Homo sapiens: one gene and its partners. The protein of the gene in region 4 binds, or shares a complex with, the protein of the main gene of each other region. Each region holds a gene or a part of one and is shown on either strand. Other genes may lie near its edges. The genes, in order: DRC8, DRC4, DRC3 and DRC5.

Region 1 (7,027 bases), on a different chromosome or scaffold from region 4:
CCAGCACTTTGGGAGGCTGAGGCAGGCGGATGACTTGAGGCCAGGAGTTTGAGAACAGCCTGGGCAACATAGCAAGACCCTGTCTCTACTAAAAATACAAAAATTAGATGGGCGTGGTGGTGGGCACCTGTAATCCCAGCTACTTGGGAGGCCAATGCAGGAGAATTGCTTGAACTCAGGAGGCAGAGGTTACAATGAGCCGAGATTGGGCCACTACAATCCAGCTTGAGCCACACAGTGAGATGCCATCTCAAAATAATAATAATAAAAACTATATATATATAAAGTAGAATAATTATAATAGCTAATACTGTTCTTAGCTTTAAATCCCAAGCTAATATTGTTCTAAGAGCTTTAAAAATGTCCACTCACAATAGTGGTTCTCAAACTTTTTGGTCTGATAACTCCTTTTACAAACTATCAAAAATTATCAAGGCGCTCAAAGCGTCTATGTTTGTGTGAGTTATATGCATCTATATTTACTATCATATTAGAAATTAAAGCTTACATTTTAAAAATATGTATTTATTAATTCATTTAAAAATCATAAATCAACCCAAATGTTTACATAAATAGTTGTTAATTTTTTAAACTATATTTTCCAAAACAAAAAGTATATTTAGAAGAATGGCATTGTTTTACATTGTTTTACATACGTTCAATGTAAATATGTAACACCTGGCTTCACAGAGGACAGCTGCATTCTCATATCTAGTTCTGCGTTCAATCTGTTGTAAAACTGCACGTCATGTAGCCTTTGAAAAACTCCAGTATAAGGCTGGGTGTGGTGGCTCACGCCTGTAATCCCAGCACTTTGGGAGGCCAAGGTGGGTGGATCACCTGAGGCCAGGAGTTCATGACCAGCCTGGACAACATGGTGAAACCCCGTCTCTACTAAAAAAAAAAAAAAATACGAAAATTAGCCGGGCGTGGTGGCGGGCACCTGTAATCCCAGCTACTTGGGAGGCTGATGCAGGAGAATTGCTTGAACCCGGAAGGCGGAGGTTGCAGTGAGCTGAGATTGCACCATTGCACTCCAGCCTGGGTGACAGAGCGAGACCCTGTCTAAAAAAAAAAAAAAAAAAAAAAAAAGAAAGAAAAACTCCAGTATATACTTGTGGAAACAGTGAGAATGAAAAGAACAAATACTGTCTTAAATTTATTATGAAAATAGTTATGACTTCACAGACCCCGGAAAGGGTCTTGGGGGCACTCTGAGAACTAATTACTTATACTATGAAACCTAGGAGGCAAAGGTACATGGAGGCACAAAGAGAATAACAAAGTGACTCGCAGTCACGGAGCTGGGATGGGAACCCAGGAAGTCTGATTCCAGACCTCAGGACTGCCCCTCAGAGGTGGAAGGGCAGTAGCAGGAGCCCAGCTCATAATGCTTTTGACAGTGGGCTGGTGGCTGCCCAGCATTTGGAATACCAGACTTTCCCTTTATCTAATGCAATACAATTTCAAATCAAATATTTCAATTTGTGCAAAGCAGAGATAAGGGAAAGGGAAAGTAGCCACCACAAAATTCTAAGACCTAGACCTCTCAGGGGACCTAGATCAGCCCTACACAGGAAGTAACACCAAACCTCCACCTGAGGGATAAAGCAGTTAGGGGAGGAACAGCCAGTGCCTGGGGGCGGGGGGCGTCTCCAGGAACAGCTCTCTCTGTCCTGCCCCCACTGAGCCATTACATATCTCTCCCTCCGTTCAAAGACACTTCTTTCTTTTTTATTTTTAGACAAAGCCTCACTTAGTCGCCCAGGCTGGAGTGCAGTGGTGCAATCTCAGCTCACTGCAATCTCCACCTCCTGGGTTCAAGAGATTCTAATGCCTCAGCCTCCCAAGCAGCTGGGACTACAGGTGCACACCACCATGCCCAGCTAATTATTTTTATTTTTTAGTTTTTAGTTTTTATTTTTAGGAGAGATGAGGTTTCACCATGTTGGCCAGGCTGGTCTTGAATTCCTGACCTCAGGTGAGCCACCCACCTTGGCCTCCCAAAGCTTAATTTCCAATTTATAAAGAGTGGCCGAGTGCAGTGGCTCACACCTGTAATACCAACACTTTGGGAGGCTAAGGAGGGTCTATCACTTGAGGCCAGGAGTTCAAGACCAGCCTGGGCAACATAGCAACACCCCTGTCACTACAAGAAATAATAATTAGCTGGGCGTGGTAGTCCTAGCTGCTTGGGAGGCTGAGGCAGGAGGATCACTTCAGGAGTTCAAGGTTACATACAGTGAGTTATGATCAAGCCACTATAATCTAGCCTGGAGGACAGAGTAAGACCCTATCTTTAAACGAATTTTTTAAAAAGAGTGGATGGTAATGATACCAGCAGCATGAGAACATTCATTATAAACTTTAAAGTGATATACAAATTAACACAGGAAAAATTATAAAGCTACATTCATCCATGTTGTTATTCCTCAAATATACTCAGCAGCAATATTTTAATGCTAAAAACAATAACAATTTTCTTAGTAACCATCTTTAATTAACAAAGCAGACTCTTTAGGTTGTAAGAACATCCACTTTCCCTCAGGGCCTCGGTAAAGTTATTTTAACTTTCAATGGAAAAAAAGATTCAGCCCATAAACACGTTTTCTTTTACTGAATTGGCCCTTTTACCAAAAAAGGCCTGGCATCATTGCTGTCAGTGATCGGGAGATTTTCTTTTCACTGCTACTGTCAGGAAGCCTGAAGGCAGAAGAGAAGCCCCTGATGTCTCTAAAGAGTAGGAGTGGGAGTGTGGGCAGTGTGGCATGCCCACAGTGTAGCAAGAGACTTGGCGTTAGAGAAACCTGGTGTGACATGGAGCAAACGATTTACCTTCTCCTTGTCTCTGGAAACCGGAGATGCCAACCCTTAACCCATAAATAAAAAGATTAAAATGAGGTAATCCACGTGAAGCCTCTGGCACCCAACTACACGTAGTGTGTTAGATGACAAGCCTCAAGCAGATGCTGGTTTCTTTTCTCTCTTTTCCCTCTCTCTCATAATGCCATACTTTCCCTGACTTCTCTAACAATACCTCTGTCCCCCGCCCCCAGGAGGAGAACCCTTCAAGGAGAGGTCTGAGGTCAAGGCACTTGTCATTCATGTAGTTAGTTATTCAAATTGCAGGCCGGGCTGCCTGCTGCACCCCCTCCCTAACCCTACCACCACCACCAGCACCCTGCCCACTCATTTCCTACTGGGATACCCACAGGAAGGCCTGGTGTTCCACAATGTCATTCCCACAGAATGCAATGTGACCACAGCCACCGGAGCTGTATGGTGCTGCAGCTCTGATGGCACTGGTTTATAAGCATCAAACAGTTCCTTTCCAGAACCATTTTCAAACCACTTCCCACTGCTTTGCTGGCCTCTCTACTAGGTTCTGGTCTTGAGATTGCAATCTCATCAAATAACCCTCATTTAGCCCGGCCTCCTGAAAGGATGGTTTCATTGCCTTTTTTTTTTTTTTTTTTTTTGAGACAGAGTCTCGCTCTGTCGCCCAGGCTGGAGTGCAGTGGCATGATCTCAGCTCACTGCAACCTCTGCCTCCCGGGTACAAGTGATTCTTCTGCCTCAGCCTCCAAAGTAGCTGGGATTACAGGTGCCTGCCATCGTGCCCGGCTAGTTTTTGTATTTTTAGTAGAGACAGAGTTTCACCATGTTGGTCAGGCTGGTCCTGAACTCCTGACCTTAGGTGATCTGTCCACCTTGACCTCCCAAAGTACTTGGATTACAGGTGTCAGCCACCACGCCTGGCTTCATTGCTTTTCTTTGATGTGTGTGGCACAAACCCTACAATTCTTATTAGCGTCTAATCTCTTCTCTTAAGGGGTTTTTTGTTTGTTTTGTTTCAGTCCCAAGCTGTGTCCTCCATTTCAGACCTACCAGTATTCATGTCTTCTCTTGCCTTTTTATGTTCTTCTGTTTGGGTTCTTTTTGCTATTTTACAGGGGGAGTGTGTCATCGCATAAGCATTACTGTTTCCTTGCAATATCCTATTTGTGGCCTTATAATACATATTTATGTGTTTTACAAAGCAAATGCTGTTCCTTCACTCAACGACTATTTCCTGAGTACCAACTATGTGCCAAGCACTAAAGCTAAAATAGAGTTCATCTCAGTCACAGAGTTTACAATTATAGGTTGGAACAGGCAATGAGAATACAGTATATTGTTTCTACCAGAGTATGAAGAATAAGAAACAGTACTTATCAAAGCAATAGCTAGCAAAGACCTTTTACGGAGCATGGAAAATAAATACTTAAAAGAGCATAATAAATCCAAGGTACAGTGTAAAAAGAGAAAATAGCTCTCTTGTATCTTATGACTTGTATCAGTAATTTAAAAGTGTAACAAAAAAAAAAATATTTCCACACCTCACATCCACTGTATTATTCGACTCATGGTCAAAGACTTCAAATGCCTCTTTGATTTTTTTGTGAAATTCTGCTACTATTATCTCTGCAAAAGACAAAGTAAATAAAAATTAGTTTACTTTAGCTTTGAATTCAAAACAAAAATTCTAATAACCAGACTAGCAATCTTAATAAGTAAGCATATGAAGAACCCTCTCCTTATATTTATGTATCATTTAGCATGTTTAACTTCCTCTGGAGATGTCAAAGGATACACTGTATTTGTAAACATTTTTTCTGAGGCAAAATATACATATGGTAAAGGTGCACTGATCTTAAATACACAGCTTAATTAAGTGTTTACATACGCATATACTCATGGAACCACTCAACCACTCCAATCACGGTGACAGAATATTTCCAGCAGCGGCCTCTCTATCTCAAGTCCTTTGGGTAGAGTCGTAGCCTGAGAGGCACAGTGAAACCAATAAAAACAGATACTGTTTGCTTATCAACAGTGTTCCCTGCCTACCTTGCCTTATTCTTTGCTTGTGGAGTTGGGGGAAGAAAGGCATAAAAACCAACATGACATTTACTCAAAAAGCTTTCAAACTAGTTTTGGACTATGACTTACATATATGAAACACTCATATATATATTCAGTAAACAGTTACCTAGTACTTACAATGTGCTAAGGTTATGGCAAGGAACAAAATAGAAAAAAATTCCTGCCTCCATAGAGCTACTTTTATTGGGAAAGAAATATAAGCTCGTAATATTCGATAAAATACATAGTAAGGCAAATGGTGTGAGAAATAGAGGAAGGAATAAACAGGGTAGGGACACGAGGAGTGCTGGGCGTGGGTGGGGGAGAATGGGTTGATACGGTGGTCTTAGAGAGGCCTGCCTCTGTGGTAAGGCGACCCTTGGGCAGACACCTGAAGGAGGGGAAGGAACCAGCCTTATGAACAACTGCAGAGTTTTCAGGCAGAGAGAACAGTAAGTGCAGAAGAGTAAGAAATAAGATCAGAAAGGTATGAGTTTGAGGGTGATTGTAAAGAGGCCTTGGCTAGGTGCGGTGGCTCACACCTGTATTCCCAGCACTTCGGGAGGCCGAGGAGGGTGGTTCACCTGAGGTCAGGAGTTTGAGACCAGCCTGGCCAACAGGGTGAAACCCTGTCTCTACTAAAAATACAAAATTAGCCAGGCATGGTGGCGCATAACTGTAATCCCAGCAAGTTGGGAGGCTGAGGCAGGAGAATTGCTTGAACCTGGGAGGCGGAGGTTGCAGTGAGCCGAGATTGCGCCATTGCACCATTGCACTCCAGCCTGGGCAACAAGAACAAAACTCCATCTCAAAAAAAAAAAAAAAAAAAAAAAAAGCCCTGTAGGCTACTTTAAGGATTTCGGCTTTTACTCTGAATGAGATGAGAAGCCGCTGAAGGGTTTTTCCAGGCAGCACAGTGATGCGGTCTGCTGATCACTTTGGCTATTATGAAAAGGGTGGAAGCAGAGAGACCAGTCAGGAGGCCTCTGCAATACTCCAGGTGAGAGATGTGGGCCAGAATGGTAGCAGTGAAGGTGGTGAGAAATGTCAGCATTCTGGATATATTCTTTCTTTCTTTTTTTTTTTTTTTTGAGACAGAGTCTCTCTCTGTTGCCCAGGTTGGAGTGCAGTGGCTTGATCTCGGCTCACTGCAACCTCCACCTCCCGGGTTCAAGCGATTCTCTTGCCTCTGCCTCCTGAGTAGCTGGGACTACAGGCGCACACCACCATGCCCAGCTAATTTTTTGTATTTTTAGTAGAGACAAGGTTTCACCATGTTGGCCAGGATGGTCTCGATCTCCTAACCTCATTATCCACCCGCCTCAGCCTCCCAAAGTGCTGGGATTACAGGCGTGAGCCACCGCGCCCGGCAGATTCTGGATATATTCTAAAGAGCAGAGCCAACAAGATTTGCTGATAAATTTTATGTTAGGTGCAGAGAGAAAGAAAAGGGTTAAGGCCAACTCCAAGGTGTTTGGCTGAGTGAAAGAATAAAGGACAATAATGTAATTAAGTCTCTAAATTGTGCTAAGCATGGGAGCTCATGCCTATAGCAGTTTGGTAGGCCCAGGCAGGAGGATTGCTTGAGGTCAGCAGGTCGAGGCTGCAGTGAGCCATGATCACACTACTGCACGCCAGCCTGGCGACAGAACCAGACCTTGTCTCAAAGAAAAGAAAAAGGTGTCAAAATGTATCAAACAGTAAATACAGTAGGACACCCAGAAAGAAAGAGATTAGGCATGAGTTTAGGTAATTATTTCAATTAGAAATATAATACCACCCAATAGTAGAAAATAGGAAATTTTAAAATCAGTCAAATTCTCTTCCCCCTAACATAACTACTCATCATTTTGCTGTATTTTCTTCCAATCTTTCTTCATACATATTCTTTTATATATGGCATTGAATAACTACCATTCACTCACTCAACAAATATGTACTGAATAAACACTATACACCAGGTTCTACGTCAGGTACTGTATATACTTTTACAACCGTAGAGAAAAAAAGAAACCAAAGCTCAGAGAGGCTAAGCACCTTGCCCAAGATCACAGAGTTATTGAGTGGCAGAGCTGGACTGAACTCAGATCTTCCTCATTTGAACAATCCTGCTCTTCTCCCC
Region 2 (7,027 bases), on a different chromosome or scaffold from region 4:
TGGGAGTACCATCTGCTCACCTGCACCACACCTCCTCACCTTTCCGTACCTGTGCACACCTGGTCACCCATAGCACACCTGTACCACACCTCCTCACCTGTCCATACCTGTACACACCTGGTCACCTGTACCACACCTCCTTACCTGTCCATCCATACCTGTACACACCTGGTCACCCATACCACACCTGCACCACACCTCCTCACCTGTCCGTACCCGTACACACCTGGTCACCTGTACCACACCTCCTCACCTGTCCATACCTGTACACACCTGGTCACCCATACCACACCTGTACCACACCTCCTCACCTGTCCGTACCCGTACACACCTGGTCACCTGTACCACACCTCCTCACCTGTACATACCTGTACACTCCTGCTCACCCACACCACACCTGTACCACACCTCCTCACCTGTCCATACCTGTACACACCTGGTCACCTGTACCACACCTCCTCACTTGTACATTCCTGTATACACCTGATCACCTGCACCGTACCTGTAACACACCTCACCTGTACATACCTGTACCCCCCTGCTCACCTGCACCACACCTGTACCACACCTTCTCACCTGTCCATACCTGTACACACCTGGTCACCTGTACACCTCCTCACCTGTAAATTCCCGTACACACCTGGTCGCCTGCACTACACCTGTACTACACCTCCTCACCTGTACATACCTGTAGACACCTGGTCACTTGCACCTACCTGCTCACCTGCACATACCTGCCCCACGTGCTCACCTCCCCACACCTCACCTGCACATACCTCCTCACCTGGCCACGCCTCCTCACCTGCACACACATGCTCACTTGCATCCACCTGCTCACTTGCATGCCTCACCTTTACACAGCTACACATGCCTGTTCACCTATGCAAACCTGTACACTTGAGGCACAGAGCAGGACACCAAGGCTGGGAGGTGAGGTGCATCCCCAGCTCATGGGGTATTAAGTGGCAGAGCTGAGTTGCAAACAGGCCAGTCTGCCCCCAGAGCCCATATTCCTTCCATGTTGTGGAGGCAGCATTTTAAACCCTCAGGACCTGCAGGGTCTCTCCCTCAGGCTTTTATAAAAAACACCTTTAAGGCTGTGACTCCCAAAGCCAAGAACAGAAAATGTCCCACCTGCACCCTCACTGGATCCAGCTCCTCTGGGGCTCTGTGGTGACCAGGTTAGCACGTGCAGGCCGGCCCCACTCACCTTGATCTCCACCTGGTGCCTCTCCTCGGCTTCTTCCATCTCCCGGTCTTTGTTCCGCAGCTCAGCCTTCTTCTCCTCCAGCTGCCTCCGTGTGATCTCCCAGAAGGTGTGGATCTTGTCCCGCTCCAGCTGGAAGTAGTTTCGTTCCTCCCGCTCGCGGTCCAGCTCCTCCCGGATGCGGCTGACATGCTCCTCCACCTGGCCAGGTGCAGTGGGTCAGGTGAGGCACTGAGCAGGGGCCCATGCACGGCAACGGGGCGTGTGGCCGGCGAAAGGCAAGGAAGAAAGAGGGAGGACTCAACTTCACCTAAAAATAAACAGCTAAATGTAAAAAGTTAAAATATAAGGCTAGGAAGCTCCGGAGACAGAATGCATTCAGCAGGTGGCAGAATTCTCTTCAATTTGGCCAATAATCATAAAATAACTAGATCCTTTCATCCATTCCTGAGAATTGATGCCTAAAAAATTTCTCAAAAGAAATATAAGAGCATCTTGCTCAAAGATATTACCCACACCATTATTACAACAGCAAAAATATCAAAAAGGAAATAACCTAAGACCAGTTTAAACAGGGAAATAAGCGAGGCGCGGTGGCTCTCGCCTGCAACCCCAGCACTCTGGGAGGCTGAGGTTGAAGGATCCCTCGCGCCCAGGAGCTGAAGACCAGCTTGGGCAACATAGCAAGACCCCATCTCTGCAAAAACTTTTTTTCATTAACTAGGCATGATGGCACGCACCTATAGTCTCAGCTACTGGGAGAGCTGAGGTGGGAGGGTCACTCAAGCTCAGGGGGTTGAGGCTGCGGTTAGTTATGATCATGCCACTACACTCCAGCCTGGGTGACAGAGTGAGAATCTGTCTCAAAAAATACACAAACAGCCAGGCATGGTGGCTCCCACCACTTTGGGAGGATCTTTTGAGCCCCAGAGTTGAACAGCCTAGGCAACATGGCAAAACCCTGTCTCTACAAAAAAAAAAAAAAAAAAAAATTAGCCAGGAGTGGTGGCACATGCCTATAGTCCCAGCTACTCAGAAGACTGAGGTAGGAGGATCGTTTGGACCTGGGAGGTCAAGGCTGCCGTGAGCCGTGATCACACCACTGCACTCCACCTGGGTGACAGAGCAGGACCCTGTCTCTAAACAATAAATAAATAAATATGGAAATGGTTGAAAAATTAGAGTATATCAACTAGGAGAAATATCACATTAACCCAAAAAAAATATGCAAATGATGTAGCAGCATTTAAACAAATTCATATCATAATGCTAAATGAAAAAAAATTCACCTTTGAAGATATAATGTTAAGCAAAAAATATACAAAACCAGTAGACTCTAAAATCTCAAGAGGGTTCAATTGCGAATCTGCAAATAGGTTAAAAAAAAATGTAGGACAGGCTTCCAGCTTTCTCGGGAGCTCATTTCCCTTAAGAATCAGTTACTGCCAGGCGCGGTGGCTCACACCTGTAATCCCAGCACTTTGGGAGGCAGAGACAGGCAGATCATGAGGTCAGGAGATCAAGGCCATCCTGGCTAACACGGTGAAACCTCGTCTCTACTAAAAATACAAAAAAATTAGCCGGGCGTGATGGCAGGCACCTGCAGTCCCAGCTACTGGGCAGCCTGAAGCAGCAGGATGGTGTGAACCCAGGAGGTGGAGCTTGCAGTGAGCCGAGGTCGCGCCACCGCACTCCAGCCTGGGCCACACAGCGAGATTCCGTCAGAATCAGTTACTTTTCGGGCACAGCCCCAGGCCACTTACTGTGAGCCTTTTTCTTTCTCAACACCACATTCCCCACAGGGAAAACACATTTCTCACCTCAAAAGAAGACAAGACAACGAGCAAACAAGAAGGAGCAGCAGGAGGGGTTCTGAGCCGAGGATGCCGGGCAGACATGAGGGAGACACGCACCCCCGAATCCAACCAGTGCCTCGGCACAACGACAAATGTCTTCACGTCACAGACCTTTAGAGGCTCCTGGGCAGAGCCTGAACCAGGGCTCCTGACTGGTCTGTTTGGCTCACATGGTGTTGAGATTTTGCCATCACTCAATATTCAGATTTCTTATAAATATCCAGATTTCCAGCTTCTCTTGGAAAATCAGAAAAAAACAGCACTGAACTCCTAGGCCCACAAGGCACTCCCCAGTGAACAGATGAAACTGTCCTCTGCTGCGGGGCAGGAGTCTCCAGGTCACCCCCATCCCTCCCCACCTGCCTGGACCCTGAAGAAGCCTTCTGAGTCTGTGGCTCAACGTGCGATGTGCAGTGCAAGGGCCTGCCCCGTAGCCTGCCCCGTAGGCTGCCCCATAGCCTGCCCCGTAAGCTGCCCCGTAGCCTGCCCCGTAGGCTGCCCCGTAGGCTCCATGGCCACTGCCCCACAAGGCCTGTCTCCACAGGAATGGGAAGCGGACAGGGAGACGGGCAGCAGCTCACATGCTGGGACAACGCAGTGTTCAATCCATTCTCCATCCAGCAGCTCCAGACATCTTTCCAGAACACAAACCTGACCCCATCACCTCTCTGCTTAGCCACTGGCTTAAACTGCCAATGGTTTGCCTGCATGTAAAATAAAGCCATTCTTTACCATTGTTCAAGGACCTCTGCCTAGCTCCAACTTCAGGTCATGAGACTCTTTCAGTCTCCTTCGTATTGATTTTTTATCTTACAACTATCAAAAGAAGGTAAGATTTATTAACAATAACACAGAGTTGACACAGCCCTCATGTCCCATGTCAGGTGCTCACAGGCAGTCGTCCATGAGGGCAGAGGCCAGAGGGTGCACCGTGCTTGCCACACACTGCCGTCTCCAGGAGCCTTTTAGGTAAAATTGTAATTATGTAATTATGTTCTGTAGCCCTTAACTACATCCAAATGAAGAAGAGACTTAAACTAACTCCTACAAAGAAACTATAAAAACATCACCTCCTCCCCAAAATAAGCAACAAGAAAAAGGCAGCCCTGATGCTGTTACTCCTTGTTGGGACTTTTATCAAAAACAATGAATGACTGGCCAGGCGTGGTGGCTCATGCCTGTAATCCCAGCACTTTGGGAGGCCGAGGCGAGTGGATCACGAGGTCAGGAGATCGAGACCATCCTGGCTAACACGGTGAAACCCCGTCTCTACTAAAAATACAAAAAAAAAATTAGCCAGGCGTGGTGGCAGGTGCCTGTAGTCCCAGCTACTCGGGAGGCTGAGGCAGGAGAATGGTGTGAACCCGGGAGGTGGAGCTCACAGTGAGCCGAGATCGCGCCACTGCACTCCAGCCTGGGCGACAGAGTGAGACTCCGTCTCAAAAAAAAAAAAAAAAAAAAAAAAAAAAATGAACGATTAATCAGATTCAGATGTGATTTGAAGTAAATCATCCTTCTTTCAAAAACTTCCTTTTTGACATAATGTTTAATGGTGAATAAAATAAAGGAGAATGCTACATGTGTGTTCTACGATAAGTCTATACACATCAGGTGCAAAAAAAGGGTAAGATTGAAAGAGAATACACGAAATTAAAAACAGCTTTTAGATCAGAAAAGCATGTCCTTCCACACTCCTACCACCCTGTTACAAAGCTCTTTCACAGGCTGCACTACCTTTCTGAAAAGACATGGTGCAGCCGAAAGCTTTGCCGCTGATGGGAATTATGGGCCACGCGGGGGGCGTGTTCTGGCTTGGACAGAAGGGTGGATCCACATGGCAAGATGGACACTCGGCGTAGGCACCCTGCGTGGTGCCCGCCCACGCCCACCCGGGGACTGGGCCACAGCCCGCTCTGCTCACCTGCTCCTTGCTCATGTCCTCTGGAGCGAGCCCATCGACAATCGGGGTGCCTTTGGCTTTGCCTTTCTTCCCTTTCTTTTTCGGTGCCTTTGGTGGAAATAATGGGGTAAGAGAGACTCTAACAGCTTCCCCTTCTTGGCTGGCTCTGATTTGCTCCCAGGAACATTTGGCAGAGAAGGTTCTGGAACCTCTCTCCCTTCTGCTCACCTGGAGCACATCATTGCCCTGAGTGTTCCCACCCTTTACCACACACACATCCTGTTGTTGCATTTGGAGAAGCACAAAGGAGAAACCTTCCTTTTGAGAAGGAGAACATTCCTTCTAGAAAAGAGAGGAGCCGGGCGTGGTGGCTCACGCCTGTAATCCCAGCACTTTGGGAGGCCGAGGTGGACGGATCACGAGGTCAGGAGATCAAGACCATCCCGGCTAACACAGTGAAACCCCATCTCTACTAAAAATACAAAAAAAAATTAGCCGGGCGTGCCGGTGGGCGCCTGTAGTCCCAGCTACTCGGGAGGCTGAGGCAGGAGAATGGCTTGAACCTGGGGCATGGAGTTTGCAGTGAGCCGAGATCACACCACTGCACTCCAGCCAGGACGACAGAGTGAGACTCCATCTCAAAAAAAAAAAAAAGAGAGGAAACCTAGCCAGGTGTGCTGGTGTGTGCCTATAGTCCCAGTTACTCGGGAGGCTGAGGCAGAAGAATCGCTTGAACCCGGGAGGCAGAGGCTGCAGTGAGCCAAGATCCCACCATTGCACTCCAGCCTGGGCAACAAAGTGAGACTCCATCTCAAAAAGCAAACTGTAACTTAAAAAAAAAAAAAAAGAAAAGAGAGGGAACTCATTCCAAACCCACTCATTCCTTGGTATACGGTGACCAGGCGCAGTGGCTCACACGTGTCATCCCAGCACTTTGGGAGGCCAAGGCAGGACAATCACTTGAGCCTAGAAGTTTAAGGCTGCAGTGAGCTATGGTGCACCACCGCACTCCAGCCTGGGCAGTAGAACGAGACCCCGTCTCCAAAAACTAAGAGAGGGGGGAACCCATTCCAAACCCACTCACTCCTTGGTAAAAAGTAAAGACCTCTGCTGTGGATGCAAAACAGAGGAAAGACCCTCAATACCACACTGCCAAATGTTACCATGCTGGCGGCAACATTGGTGACCACCATGGAAAAGACCTGCAAGACACCATTCAGTAAGCTTAGGGAGAAATGCCTCCATAACCACGATCGGTTGTGACAACCACAAGTTTCCTTTCTTTCAAAGAGAAACTTCCTTCAGAGAAGCCTGGTCAAGAAAGCTTGGGCAGACAGCACCCACCACGAGAGCCCTGTAAATGGGCTGCCAGACGGAACTGCACATGGCGTCGTGCGTGGTTTTAGCAACTTTGACAAGGATGGGAGAGAACCTTCTAACCCCACCCCCTTGTGGAAGTTGCTGAAACCACGCATGACACCAGGAGCAGTTCTGTCTGGCCACCCATTTACAGGGCACTCAAGCAGGTAACAAATTTCCATATCCTATCCTGCTGACTTTGCTACTCCCAGTAGTCTTCAGCCCATGCTTTTCTGTGTCTACATGTCTCGGTAACCTTTTTTAAAGACAAAGTCTTGCTCTGTCGCCCAAGCTGGAGTGCAGTGGTGTGATCACATAGCTCACTGCAGACTCCAATTCCTGGGCTCAACTGATACTCCCACCTCAGCCTCCCAAGGAGCTGGGACCACAGGAGTTCACTGCTGCTGTGCCCAGCTATGTAACGTTTTTAAAATTACAAATTTCATGTGGAAATTTTATTTATTTTTTAAAAACATTAAAACCTAAATCCATTTATCTTTTTTTTTTTTTTTTTGAGATGGAGTCTCCCTCGTCATCCAGGCTGCCTTGGCTCACTGCAACCTCCACCTCTTGGGTTCAAACAATTCTCCTGCCTCAGCCTCCACGAGGAGCTGGGACTACAGGTGCCCGCCACCACGCCTGGCTAATTTTTTTTTGTATTTTAGTAGAGACGAGGTTTCACCATGTTGGCCAGGCTGGTCTTGA
Region 3 (6,555 bases), on a different chromosome or scaffold from region 4:
AGAGATCTATCTCTTCTCCCCGCCCATCAAGTAGTCTGAGATCATTGACTTTTTCCTGGGGGCCTCTCTCAAGGATGAGGTTTTTTTTTTGTTTGTTTGTTTGTTTGTTTGTTTTTGAGACGGAATTTTGCTTTTTTGCCCAGGCTGGAGTGCAATGGCATGATCTTGGCTCACGACAATCTCCACCTCCCAGGTTCAAGTGATTCTCCTGCCTCAGCCTCCCGAGTAGCTGGGATTACAGGCATGCGCCACCATGCCCAGCTAATTTTGTATTTTTAGTAGAGATGGGGTTTCTCCATGTTGGTCAGGCTGGTCTCAAACTCCTGACCTCAGGTAATCTGCCCGCCTCAGCCTCCCAAAGTGCTGGGATTACAGGCGTGAGCCGCCACGCCAGGCCTAGGATGAGGTTTTAAAGATTATGCCAGTGCAGAAGCAGACCTGCCCCAGCCAGCGCAGCAGGTTCAAGGCGTTTGTTGCCATCAGGGATTACAATGGCCGTGTCACTCTGGGTGTTAAGTGCTCCAAGGAAGCAGCCACTGCTGTCAGAGGGATCACTGTCCTGACCAAGCTCTCTACTGTCCCCGTGCAGAGGCCACTGGGGGACCAAGATTGCAAGCCCCACACTGTCCCTTGCAAGATGACAGGCTGCTGCGGCTCTGTGCTGCTGCACCTTATTCCTGCACCCAGGGGCACTGGCATCCTCTTGGCCTCTGTGCCCAAGAAGATGCTGCTGATGTCCAGTATTGACAACTGCTACACCTCAGCCAGGAGCTGCAGTGCCACCCTGGGCAACTTTGCCAAGGCCACCTTTGATGCCATCTCCAAGACCTATAGCTACCTGCCCCCTGACCTCTGGGAGGAGACTGTGTTCACCAAGTCTTCCTCTCAGTAATTCACTGACCATCTTGTCAAGACCCACACCAGAGTCTCTGTGTGGAGGACTCAGGCTTCAGCTGTGGCTACAACACAGGGTTTTGTTTTGAGATGGAGCCTTGCTCTATCGCCCAGGCTGGAGTGCAGTGGTGCAGTCCTGGCTCACTGCAACCTCCACCACCTGGGTTCACATGATCCTCCTACCTCAGCCTCCCGAGTACCTGGGACTACAAGCGCACACCACCATGCCTGGTTAATTTTTTGTATTTTTAGTAGAGATGGGGTTTTACCAATGTTGGCCGGCCAGGCTGGTCTCAAACTCCTGACCTCAAGTGATCCGCCCACCTTGGCTTCCCAAAGTAACACAGGGTTTTTATATAAGAAAAATAAAGTGAATTAAGCCTGTTTAAAACAAACAAAAACACAGATACATAAACCAATGAAACAGAATAGAGAACTCAGAAATTAATCTATATATTTACAGCCAACTGATTTTTGACAAAAGCGCCAAGAACACTCACTGGGGAAAAGACAGTCTCTTCAATAGATTTTGCTGGGAAAACTGGATATCCATATGCAGAAGAATGAAACTAGATTCCCATCTCTCACTCTATACAAAAATCAACTAAAAATGGATCTAAGACCTACATGTAAGACCTGAAACTGGCAGGGCGCAGTGGCTCATGCCTGTAATCCCAGCACTTTGGGAGCCTGAGACAGACAGGTCGCTGGAGCTCATGAGTTGGAGACCAGCCTGGGCAACATGGCAAAGACCCACCTCTCTATAAAAAATACAAAAATTAGCTGGGCATGGTGGTACCTGCCTATAGTCCCAGCTACTCAGGATGCTGAGGTGGGAGGATGGCTTGAGCCCAGGAGGTGGAGGTTGTAGTGAGCTGAAATTGCACCACTGCACTCCAGCCTGAGCAATAGAGCCAGACTTTGTCTCAGAAGAAAAAAAAAAAGACCTGAAACTATAAAATGACCAGAAGAAAACAAGAGAAATGCTTTAGGACATTGGCCTGGGAAAAAATTTTATGAATAAGACCTCAAAAGCACAGACAACAAAAGCAAAAATAAATGGAATATATCAAACTATAAATCTTCTGCACAGCAAATGAAACAACAGAGTGAAAAGACACCCTACACAATGTGACAAAATATTTGCAAACTACTTATCTGACAGGGTATTAATATCCAGAATATACAATGAACTCTAACATCTCAATAGCAAAAAAACAAACAATTCAATTAAAAACATCTGAACAGATGTTTCTCAAAAGAAGACATACAAATGGCCAACAAATACATTAAAAACTTTTCAGCATCACTAGTTATCAGGGAAATGCAAATAAGAACCAGAATGAGGCATCATCTCACCCCACTTAGGATGATAATTATCAAAAAGACAAAAAATAACAAATGCTGGTGAGGATGCAAAGAAAAAGGAACTCATATACTGTAAGTAAGAATGTAAACTAGGACAGCCACTAGGAAGAACATTGTGGAGGGCCCTCAAAAACTACAAACAGAACTATCATATGATCCAGCAATCTCACTACTGAGCATTTGTCTAAAGGAAAGGAAATCACTATATTGAAAACATATCTGCACCCATGTTTACTGCAGCACTGTTCGCAATAACAAGATACAGAATCAACCTAGGTGTCCAACAACAGATGACTGGATAAAGAAAATGTGGTACCTATACACAATGGAATACTATTCAGCCATAAAAAAAGAATGAAATCCATGGCAACATGGATGGAACTGGAGGACATTATGTTAAGTGAAATAAGCCAGGAACAGAAAGTTAAACACCTCATGTTCTCACTCATATGCCGAAGCTAAAAAAGTTGATCTCATAGAAGTAAAAACAAGAACAGAGGCTTCTAGAGACTGGGAAGGGTAGAGAGATGGAGGAATAGGGAGAGATTTGTTAAAGGATATACCAAATTACAGCTAGATAGGGGGAATAAGTTCTAGTGTTCTATACCACTATGGGATGACTATAGTTGACAATAATATAGTTTCAAATAGCTAAAAGGAGGATATTGAATGTTCTCAACACAAAGAAATGATAAATGTTTGAGACGGATATGCTAATACCCTGATCTGATCACTATACATGATAGGTGTTGAAACATCACTATGTACCCCATCAATATGTACAGTTATTTGTCAATTTTTTTAATGCCAATTTTTTTTTTTTTTTTTGAGGTGGAGTTTCACTGTTGTTGCCCAGGCTGTAGTGCAGTGGTGCAATCTTGGCTCACTGCAACCTCGGCCTCCCAGGTTCAAGCTATCCTCCTGCCTTAGCCTTCCAAGTAGATGGGATTACAGGCACCCGCCACCATGCCCAGCTAATTTTTGTATTTTTATTCACCATATTGGCCAGGCTGGTCTTGAACTCCTGACTGAGGTGATCCACCCACCTTCCCGCCTTGGCCTCCCAAAGTGCTGAGATTACAGGCATGTGACACCGTGCCCGGCCAGTGCCAACGTGTTTAAACAAAGAAGTTGCTTTGAAAGAAATGTGTCTTTACAGCCACAAGGACCACAGAGCAGGGCAACAGCTCAAAAAAGACTCAGGAATACCTGTTTGCACAGCCCCTGCCTCCACCCTAGTGCTTTCAACCTGCAGAAACTGGAGAGGGATCTGGAATATTCTACCCATAAAAACTATTCTAAGAGGGAAAATTGAAGTAGCCACCACTCTAGGCCACCCAAAGTCCAGAAACAACTTGTAACTCACATTTCAAAACAATTCCCTTAAACCCAGTTTCCTTTTGTTTTCATTTTACAAATGTCACACAGTTTTTCATAACCAATTCTAATCATGTATGTTTCTAAGCAGATTTCAGTTTCTGTTGCTTCTCACAGCTTTTGAAGCTGTTTTCTACATATTCAAACTCTGAGGGGTATGATTTCTCTGCCTGGCTTAGAGCTCCACTATGACCCACCTTTTAGAATGAAGGATGAGAACCTTTTCGTGATGGGTTGACACTGTGGTTGTAGTTATCTCTAAAATAACCAGGACACCCACTCCTAAGCACACTGCCAAGGCTCACCGAAAACAGGCTTTACACACCTTTGAACCATTCCCAGAGCCTGGCCTGGGACCTTGTACACACATGGAAAGAACTTAATAATTTCTTGACATTTCTCCCTTGTGACTGTGCTAATTGGTCCCCCAGACACCCCATTCCACATATCAGCTAACCTGGCTTTTCCCACATGAGATTATGTGGAAAATCAGCATCCCACAAGACATTAACAGGCATTACTCTGAAGTCTGTAGCCAAAAAAGTTGGAAAACCAAGAGAGACAAAGCTTAAAGGGTTTATTTTCCACAGGACTTTGTAGAGCCTTCAGAATACTTTGTGCCCAGCAAATCTTTAGGAGGGGCCTAGGATGTGCTGGCTTTCCCAAATGTATTTGACCAAAGAATACTTTTTTTGGCAGAAATATTAACATCTTAAGATTGCACAGAACGTTTTAGAGACCATTAAGTTAACTGCCACTACAGGAAAGAACAAAAAATGCACACTCCACTTGCAAATCCTCCCTGCAATACAGAGCATTCAGGTGCTCTGCCTTACCAAGCGCCTCTGCTTCAAGGTGGAAGCAACTGCTTACTGAGTGCTTCAGTGGCCTTGCCCTGCTCTGGGAAATGACTCCATTTCAACCATCCCAGGCAACAATAGCCACAGTGTCAACACCTAGAACCAGTGAGGCCTATTAGAAGGTGGTTGTTTCTAACAACTTTTTACAAGACAGCAAAGTCAGGAACAAGAGAAGGCAGAAGGATACTCCAAATGGAATCCAAAGTTTGGTTTTGTTGACATGAGTGGCAGTGGAGAGACAACTGTGGGGTGAACACCCATGAGTTTGTAGGGCCTGCTGTCTTCAGAGCAGCCTCGAGACCCTCAGCCAGCCTCATGCTTCCACCCAGCAGGCAGAGGTTTTGGGCAAGTTAGACTTGAGAGTAATTGAGAGAGAAGCATTGTGAGAACAGATGTCCTGGGTGAGGTGCCCCCTGGGCAGCCATCTGCCTTCACCCTGGAGGAAACATGCTTCCAGCGGGGACTGCAAAGTAACACCCTGGTTGGCCCTTTCCCCACAACACCTGCCCTGTGCAGTTGGGGAAGCGGCTGTCACAGATGAATTCACAGATGAATCGGCAGAGTGCGCTGATACAAAGGTGGGCTCTGCTCTGAGTGTGGCCTGCACAGCCAGGGGACTTCCAAATGCTCCTTCTCTGTTCAGCTCCCTTTGTGTTCACGGTATAATGACACACACTTTCTCATTGGATTCTTTTCACTCACCAGCTTTTTGTCGATAAAGATACGATTGTTAATGCTGTCGGGGCATCGCACGACATCCACCTCCTGAAGATTGACAATCGAGAAGATGAGCTGGTGACCAGAATCAACTCTTGGTGTACACGTTTAATAGACAGGGTGAGTCAATCCCAAGCCATCCTAGCAGGCTGGATGAACTTTTCTAGCTGACATGGAAATCCTCCCTAGGTAGTGGATAGAATTTTCATTAAGGAATGAAATGAAGGAAGAAATAAAATTAAGGATTATAGAATTCCACACTGAAGACAACATTGCCCAGAGACTTTAAAACCCATGGGCTTCATCATTTTCCTAATTCCTACCTCAAATATACAGAGATCAGCAGAACCTGGGGAGGCGCTGAAGCAAATGAGGTTTGCAGATCTAAAGGAACTATTTTCCCCTTCCCTCAAACTGGATTCAGTGAAAGATATTAACCAATGATCTGATGTAAGGAATCGGGCTTTGGTTTCACTCCTCAGATTCACAAGGATGAGATCATGAGGAACCGCAAGCGCGTGAAGGAGATCAATCAGTACATCGACCACATGCAGAGCGAACTGGACAACCTGGAATGTGGCGACATCCTAGACTAGATGAATGTCAGCCACAGGAGCTTCTTCAAAACATAGCACCAGCCCCAGCCAGGAGAAGGAAGTGCACACGCCTCACCCGCACCTCTAGAGAGTTGCTGGGCATCTCTCAACCGCGATCCCCAACACCATTCTTCCCCCACCCCTGGAAAAACTTCCAAAAGTAGAGAAAATAAAGGACTCATTTCACATTTCCCCTACTCATAAAAAAAAAAAAAAAATCAGCTGGGTGCGGTGGTTCACGTCTGTAATCCCAGCACTTTGGGAGGCCGAGGCATGCAGATCACGAGGTCAGGAGTTCGAGACCAGCCTGACCAACATGGTGAAACCTTGTCTCTACTAAAAATACAAAAATTAGCCAGATGTGGTAGCGTGCACCTGTAATCCCAGCTACTCAGGAGGCTGAGGCAGGAGAATCACTTGAACCTGGGAGGCGGAGGTTGCAGTGAGCCAAGATCGCACCACTGCACTCCAGCCTGGGCGACAGAGCGAGACTTCGTCTCAAAAAAAAAAAAAAAAAAAAAAAAAAAAAAAAAAAAATGTTCATGTAGGAACAAGAGAAAGAGTTTGAGATGAACAGCCGGTCCCAGGCCAGCTGACAGAGCAACTCCCAAGGGCACTGCCATCAGCTAGATTCTTGGCTGTGGCATAAAGTCAGACACGTGCCCCTGCCGTTTCCCCTGCCATGCCTAGGCAGGCTGCCAGCCACAGGCAAAAGGAGGCCGGTGTGGGCTAAGACCTTCTCT
Region 4 (7,027 bases):
GGACTTTGCAGGGACTGGTGTGATTGAAGGCTTTGAGAGCTGTGGGCTTGTGCTTGAAGTGTGTCCTCCAGTGGAGGAATTGTCCTGGGTGGAGACTGAGGAGTGGCTGGGGTCCAACAATGCTGATGTCGTTACGGTATCCTGCATGCTGGAGGCTGGCAAGGTAGGGGTGCGTGGCCCCTGGATGGCCTTATGACAAGAAGCTTCTCAGACTGGCAGGTCCTTGAAACAGGTAGGGATCTGGAGCAAAAGGAAGAGGGTAGAGGTGTTACTTTGGTGGGTCTTGGTGGGCATTTACTAAGAGAGGTGGTACAGAATAGTGCTTAACGATCAGTCCCTGGAGTGAAGCAGATCCAAGTTATCTGTGTGGCCTTGGGCAAGTTACTGAACCTCTCTGAATTTCAGATGTTGCCTCTGAGAAATGAAGGTCGCAGTTCCAGTAGGATTATTTGGAGGAGTGGATAAAATAATGCATCCAAAGGGCATAATATAGTATCTGACACATGAAACTAGCAAGGAGCAGCCCCAAATTTTAGATAATAGCTCTACAGCAATTACAGTAATTGCTCTGTGCCAGACAATCTTTTTAGTTCTTTATGCCTATTAATTCATGTGTCCTCAGAAAAGCCTTTTTCAGAAAAGGCTTTTTCAGATAGGTGCTTGTATTATTCCCATTTTTCTGCTGGGAAACTGAAGCAGAGAGGCTAATTGACTTGCCCAATGTCATGCAGCTTAGAAGTATCACGGGTGGGTTTAAATTCAGTCTGTCAAATTCATGCTCTGAACCCTACATTGGACCGGCCCTCTGAGGGTGAGGGGTGTATATTGCCAAAAGACACAGATATAATAAAGAGCCATTCAGCTCATAACAGGACCCTGCACTAAGTATTTCATAGAACAGCAACTGCCTGATCCGTAGGATGGGGTTGAGAACAGCTCTGGCCAACAGAAATATAATGCAAGCCAAAATGCAAGCCACATATGCTATTTTAACTTCTTTAGTGCCCACATTTTAAAAAGTAAAGAGAAACAAGGCTGGGCGTGGTGGCTCATGCCTGTAATCCCAGCACTTTGGGAGGCCAACGTGGGTGGGTCCCTTGAGGTCAGGAGTTTGAGACCAGCCTGGCCAACATGGTGAAATCCTGTCTCTACTAAAAATACACAGATTAGCTGGGCAGGGTGGCAGGCACCTGTAGTCCCAGCTACTCGGAAGGCTGAGGCATGACAATCAGTTAAACCTGGGATGCAGAGGTTGCAGTGAGCCAAGACTGTGCTACTGCCCTCCAGCCTGGGTGATAGAGCAAGACTCTGTCTCAAAAAAAAAAAAAAAAAAAAAAAAAAAAAGAAAAACAGGTGAAATTAGCTTTTTTTTTTTTTTTTTTTTGTCTTGCTCTTGTTGCCCAGGCTGGAGTGCAATGGCGCGATTTTGGGTCACTGCAACCTCCACCTCCAGGGTTCAAGTGATTCTCCTGTCTCAGCCTCCCGATTACAGGGATTACAGGCGCCTGCCACCACCCCCAGCTAATTTTTGTATTTTTAGTAGAGACGGGGTTTCACCATGTTGGCCAGGCTGGTCTTGAACTCCTGACCTCAGGTGATCCACCCACCTCAGCCTTCCAAAGTGCTGGGATTACAGGCGTGAACCACTGTGCCTGACCATGAAATTAATTTTATATTTAGCCCAGTATGTCTAAAATGTTATTTAAACATATAATCAATATAAAATTATTAATGCGACATTTTATATACTATGTTTTCATATGAGGTCTTCAAAATTTGATGGCTCAATGGGCACATTGAGCCTACCGTTTCAATGTGGCTACTGTTTCAGAGAGTGCAGGTTGAGAGAGAAAGGAGAGGGGAACAAGACCCATGCCCTGCCCAAGGTGCCAGCACCCTTCTCTCCTCCTTCCCACTGAGAGCTCAAACTCCAGGTCCCTTCCCTTCCATCTCCCCATCCAGTCTTCCTCTAGCTCTCCCAGCCTCCCAGCATTCCAGACAGCAGTGGGCAAGCGTGGGAGGCGAGAAGACAGCTAAATCTGGGGCTGAAGACAGAAGATAGAGGATGTGTCTTGGTCCGGGGACCCTCCCCCATTTGCCCATTCCTGCACCCTTGCACTCCTGCCCTGAGATCTGCTGGAGGAAAGCCCAAATGGGGCTGCTGGCACCTAGTTCCTCCTCCAGGCAGTTTCCCATCAGATGTGCACCCTCACGACTCAGTGCACTGGGTAGTGGCCGGTGGGAGGGAACACTCTGAACCAGCAAAGGCGTCCTTGGCAGAGGGAGGGACCAGATGGTGCTTCCCAGCCTGCCAGGCATCTCAAGGAGGAAAAGCCTGGTTGAGAGGCGGGTGGCAGGGAGAGAGATAGTGCGGGAAAGATATCTAGGTATTGTGACATCCCCTATGCAAATCAAATGCAAATTCACACACAGATTGTGTCCAGAATTGTGGAATAACCAGATAGTGCTTTTTGACTAATGGCATCTCAGAGTGTAGGGCTGGAGGGGGTTGCTGCTTAGTGGTACCGGCTGACTTTGCATTTCTGGCTTTGTCAGTTATGTGCTTTGTGACCTTGGCCAAGTTACTTAACCTATCTGAGCTTCAGTTTCCTTATCTGAGAAACTGGATAATAATATCTTCCTACATGGGCTGTAGTGGAGATCCCCCTGAGATAATGGTCGGTTAATATTGATCATTGTAAAGCATACAGGGTGTGTGGAGAGTGAAGGTACTATGAGGGGCAGGGGTCTGAGGCTGCAGAGACCACATCCAGGAGACCTGCTTCTTGAGTGCTGACCTGAGATGGTATCTTTGGGTGAGTGCAAAGTTTCTGAGGCCCTTCCCTATTTCCAGGAGTGATGTGAAGGGCAAGGAGGCAGGGTGGTGTTGGGGGCTCATAGACAGTACGACAGAGGCAAAGGAGGAAGGTCAGAGGCAACAGGCCAGCCCAACTCCTGCTTGGTTTTGGCCTAAAACATTCTATAATTTCCCTTGGTCCCAGATATGTCCCTGGACACCCATGGGCCACACCCAGGGAGCAGGACCAGGCTTGGCAGGGGGAGCCCCAGGTTGCTGGTGTGCATTGCCCTGGAGTTGACTCTTTAGTCATTCCTCACAGCACCATCCAGCTTCACCATACTGGCAGGCAGTCCCTTCTCCTTCTTCTCCTGGGGAGCCACACCTGGGAAACCCCACCTGGGGCCAGGTGGGATGCCTCTGCAATCAGGTGACTCTAGTCCCACCGTCTAGCACCTCACTTTCAGGACCTGGAGTTCTTCCTACGATCTGGTCCTAATTGGTCTTGCTGCTGTTTTGTGCCTGCAGCCTGCCTCTGGGCATGACACAGCAGGACCCATCGGGGCATGTTCCAGGGCCCTGAACCAACTTCTCAGAAGGAAGGGGCAGGGCCTCGCTCCATATCACATGGCTGCCGTGTGCATGGCTGGTATAAAAATGAGCCCCTACTACCTTCAGCCTTTATAGGAACATCCATACCATAAGGCCTGATGTCATTTTAAGGCAAATGTTGAAAAAATTAATTGCATAAGATCAGAGTTGATAATTTTCAGTTAATCATCTCTTGATTTTTTAAAAATGGATATCACAAAAATATTTTGGCAGGCAAATTATTACCAGACACACAAGATTCTTCTAAGGAGGATTTTAGTTCTAAGTGTTTAAAAAAATCTACTTTTTAAACTAACAACATAGAAAACAAAGTATATTTAAAAGGATAACGAGCAAAACTAACTCCTTGCTGCCCCGCTGTCACTGTTATGAGGATGTGGAGTATGGCTCCTCCCTTGGCAGGTTGCCTTCTGACCCCTGCCCTTGGGGGACACCCTTTGGCGTGCCACTCTCTTGGCTCTCCTCCTACTTTCCGACCATTCTTTTTCCAAAAGTCTTCACCACAGACTTCTCTCCCTCTGCCCATCTCTCACGTGCCAAGGTCCCTCAGAATTCCGCCATGGTCGTCCACTCATTCCTTCTGATGGGTTCTAGCTTTCACCTCTTCCAGGTGGGGTTTCCCAGCTGTGACATCCCAGGAGAAGCAGAGGGTACTGTTACCAGGATGGTGAGGCTAGGGGGTGGTGGTGTAATGCCAGACTCTCCTACATCTGCATTCCAGACTCAAGTCCACTGGGATGCTGCCTAGGTCCCTCAAACTCAATCCATCCAGATGCCGGCACCAGAAACCAGGGAGTCACCTCTCTCTCTTTCAGCCCTCCCGCCCCACCCCACCATCTAGTTACTGATTCAGTTTTGTCTCCCACCCAGGCAGCCTCTCCTTTCCTGCTGCTGCCTTAGCTCAGGGCCCCAGTGTCTGTCTGGATCACAGCTTCAGCTGTTAGGCATGTGGTCTCTGGCATCCAGTCTGGTTCTCTCACATCTAGCCTTCACACAGCCGCTGTGGCAGGCTCCATGTAAGCCCTCTAGCAGCTCACCACTGCTCACTGGGTAAAATCCAGCCTCCTCACCTTGGTGTGTAAGGCCCTCCGTGGCTGGACACCTTGTTGGAAATAAGCTCCTCTTTGCATCTGGGACATTGCAGCCCAGTTCATGCTGCCCAGCCCTTGCTCAAGTTGTTCCCTCTGAAATGCCTTTCCCACCACCTCAGCCAGGGAAAGGGACAATCACTGGTCTTCTGAGTCTGAGCTCAAGCACCACTTCCTCTCTGAAGGCAAGGTGCTTCTTTGTCCCTGATACCCCAAAACAACCCCTCCCGTTGTCAGACCCCATCTTTCCAGTACCTGCATCACTCCAGTAACCTGACTGCCCACCCGTTCCCCACACCCACACTAGACTGTGAGCTTCTTGAGGTGTAGGGGCTGTCTCCTCCTCATTTTTGTCTCCAATTTCTAGCCCAGTGGTAGGTCTGCTTTAGGCGAGGTAGCTGGTGTTTGGGGCGGCTCCACTGGCTTCTGATAATAGATTCTGGCCAAAAGGAGTGTCTATTGGTCAGGGCAACTTGTTGGGGGGTGGCTATCTGATATAAGCCAATCGGAGTCCTTCTTGAGATTTGTCCAAGTGGAGGGAGACAGAAGGACATATGTCCTTGAAGGATCTGGATCTCCTGCTGCTGGAAGTCATTTCTCTCCACACGTACAAGGTCTGTTTGCGGTGGGAGGGAATCAAGCCTGGGGGAGACCAGCAGAAACGATAGATAGACAGAGACAGCATCCTGGTATCTTCAATCCCCATGCCTAGTTCTGGAGGCTCCCAGAGCTGTCTGGCTCTTTGGCAGTGCCTTCAGCTCTGAGAGCTAACTTGGCAGCCTTCTAATAAGTCCCTTTGCCAAAGCTAAGAGTTGGGTTTCTACTCCTTTTGACCAAAAGGTCCTGCCCCATTTTGACCAAAAGGCTCACAGTTTGGTGAGTGAAAATATGGGAAAAATCCTCAATCAGTAGATGAAAGAGTTCAATGGGATAGCTGAGAATGGCCAAAGGCCCCCAGGTTATTACTCACAGGACCTGATTCACTCCTGTGGCCTCTTCCTCTCTTGACTACATTGAGCCTCTAGTCTCACATCCCATCTCTCCAGGGCTGGGACAGTATCAGCACCTTACAACTGTCCAGCACTTAACAGTTACAAGGTCCTTTCAAGGTCCTTTCAGAACTATCCTCTCAAAAAAAAAAAAAAAAAAAAAAAAGTCTGGGTGTGGTGGCTCACACCTGTAATCCTAGAACTTTGGGAGGCCAAGGTGGGAGGATTGCTTGAGGCTAAGAATTCAAGACCAACCTGGCCAACATAGTGAGATGCCGTCTCTAAAAAATAAAAAAAATCTTCTCATGTGACTCTTCAACCACCCTATAATGGAGCTAGGATGGGCTTTCTTATCCCCATTTTACAGATGAAGAAACAAGGAAACAGGAAATGACTGGCCCTAAAACACCTATGAGAGCTGGGGCCAGCGTCTGAGGGCAGGTCTCCTACCTCTAGCCACAATACACTACCCCTCCACAGTCACTCAGTATGTCCCCCTCCCCTCACTGTTCCTGCCCTCCACTAGGCAAGAAGAAAGCATATTCTTGCTCCTTGGGAAGTGGGGAGGGCCTCCCCGGGCTAAGTGCGCTCCCAGGCCTTTGGCACTCCACTAGGGGAATTTCACGGCCCTAATGTACAGTCTTCATCCCTGTTAGGGTAAATGCATTTTCCCCCTAAATGAAACAAAATTTAATATCAATACTTGTATGCCTATATCCATATGTTAACCTTGAACTGCTTTTTAAAAACATATCTCATCATTTTAGGTCAAACAAAAGCATAGTAAATCATAAAATGTATACTGACACTAATGTAGCAAACTTTTTTTTTTTTTGAGACAGAGTTTCGCTCTTGTTGCCCAGGCTGGAGTGCCATGGCGCAATCTCAGCTCACCGCAACCTCTGCATCCTGGGTTCAAGTGATTCTCCTGTCTCAGCCTCCCGAATAGCTGGGATTACAGGCATGCACCACCACGGCTGGCTAATTTTGTATTTTTAGTAGAGACGGGGTTTCTCCATATTGGTCAGGCTGGTCTTGAACTCTCGACCTCAGGTGATCTGCCCGCCTTGGCCTCCCAAAGCGCTGAGATTACAGGCGTGAGCCACTGCACCCAGCCTAATGTAGCAAACTTTTTAAAAAGTAGAAGTTGTAATATATTGTTTCTGACAGTTTAAGTGTGCAGAAATTACATATATAATACACATGACTACATATAAGATATCAGGATATATGTATTCCACACCTTAGTGTGAATGAGTTTCAGATACAAAAAGCAAAGTTAGAAAAGGGGCAAGGGAGGCGGGATATGGTGGCTCATGCCTGTAGTCTTAGCACTTTGGGAGGTCGAGGAGGGTGGATTACCTGAGGTCAAGAGTTCAAGACCAGCCTGATCAACATGGTGAAACCCCGTCTCTACTAAAAATACAAAAATTAGCCAGGCATGGTGGCACATGCCTGTAATCCCAGCTACTTGAGAGGCTGAAAGAGGTGGTTTATAAGATAATTAGGGGAAAAAAATGAAGGTTGAACCCAGGAGGCAG

Evidence for each region.
Region 1: DRC5 (region 4) and DRC8 share a complex: the UniProt entries of both Homo sapiens proteins name them as parts of the nexin-dynein regulatory complex.
Region 2: DRC5 (region 4) and DRC4 share a complex: the UniProt entries of both Homo sapiens proteins name them as parts of the nexin-dynein regulatory complex.
Region 3: DRC5 (region 4) and DRC3 share a complex: the UniProt entries of both Homo sapiens proteins name them as parts of the nexin-dynein regulatory complex.

Annotation. Positions count from the first base shown.
Region 1 is NC_000001.11:245,014,679-245,021,705, reverse strand, and holds part of DRC8 (dynein regulatory complex protein 8), read right to left. Parts: intron 4,825-7,027; exon of another isoform or gene 4,731-4,824; coding exon of another isoform or gene 4,727-4,730; intron 4,465-4,726; coding exon 4,380-4,464; intron 1-4,379. UniProt on the Homo sapiens protein: Component of the nexin-dynein regulatory complex (N-DRC), a key regulator of ciliary/flagellar motility which maintains the alignment and integrity of the distal axoneme and regulates microtubule sliding in motile axonemes.
Region 2 is NC_000016.10:90,025,680-90,032,706, reverse strand, and holds part of DRC4 (dynein regulatory complex subunit 4), read right to left. Parts: intron 5,073-7,027; exon of another isoform or gene 5,072-5,072; coding exon 4,985-5,071; intron 3,809-4,984; exon of another isoform or gene 2,806-3,808; intron 1,532-2,805; exon of another isoform or gene 1,409-1,531; coding exon 1,211-1,408; intron 1-1,210. UniProt on the Homo sapiens protein: Component of the nexin-dynein regulatory complex (N-DRC), a key regulator of ciliary/flagellar motility which maintains the alignment and integrity of the distal axoneme and regulates microtubule sliding in motile axonemes.
Region 3 is NC_000017.11:18,010,860-18,017,414, forward strand, and holds the end of DRC3 (dynein regulatory complex subunit 3), read left to right. Parts: intron 1-4,199; exon of another isoform or gene 4,200-5,204; coding exon 5,205-5,336; exon of another isoform or gene 5,337-5,341; coding exon of another isoform or gene 5,342-5,401; intron 5,402-5,698; coding exon 5,699-5,812; 3' UTR 5,813-6,030; downstream 6,031-6,555. UniProt on the Homo sapiens protein: Component of the nexin-dynein regulatory complex (N-DRC) a key regulator of ciliary/flagellar motility which maintains the alignment and integrity of the distal axoneme and regulates microtubule sliding in motile axonemes.
Region 4 is NC_000006.12:44,287,679-44,294,705, forward strand, and holds part of DRC5 (dynein regulatory complex subunit 5), read right to left. Parts: intron 5,140-7,027; exon of another isoform or gene 4,800-5,139; intron 241-4,799; 5' UTR 148-240; coding exon 1-147. UniProt on the Homo sapiens protein: Component of the nexin-dynein regulatory complex (N-DRC) a key regulator of ciliary/flagellar motility which maintains the alignment and integrity of the distal axoneme and regulates microtubule sliding in motile axonemes.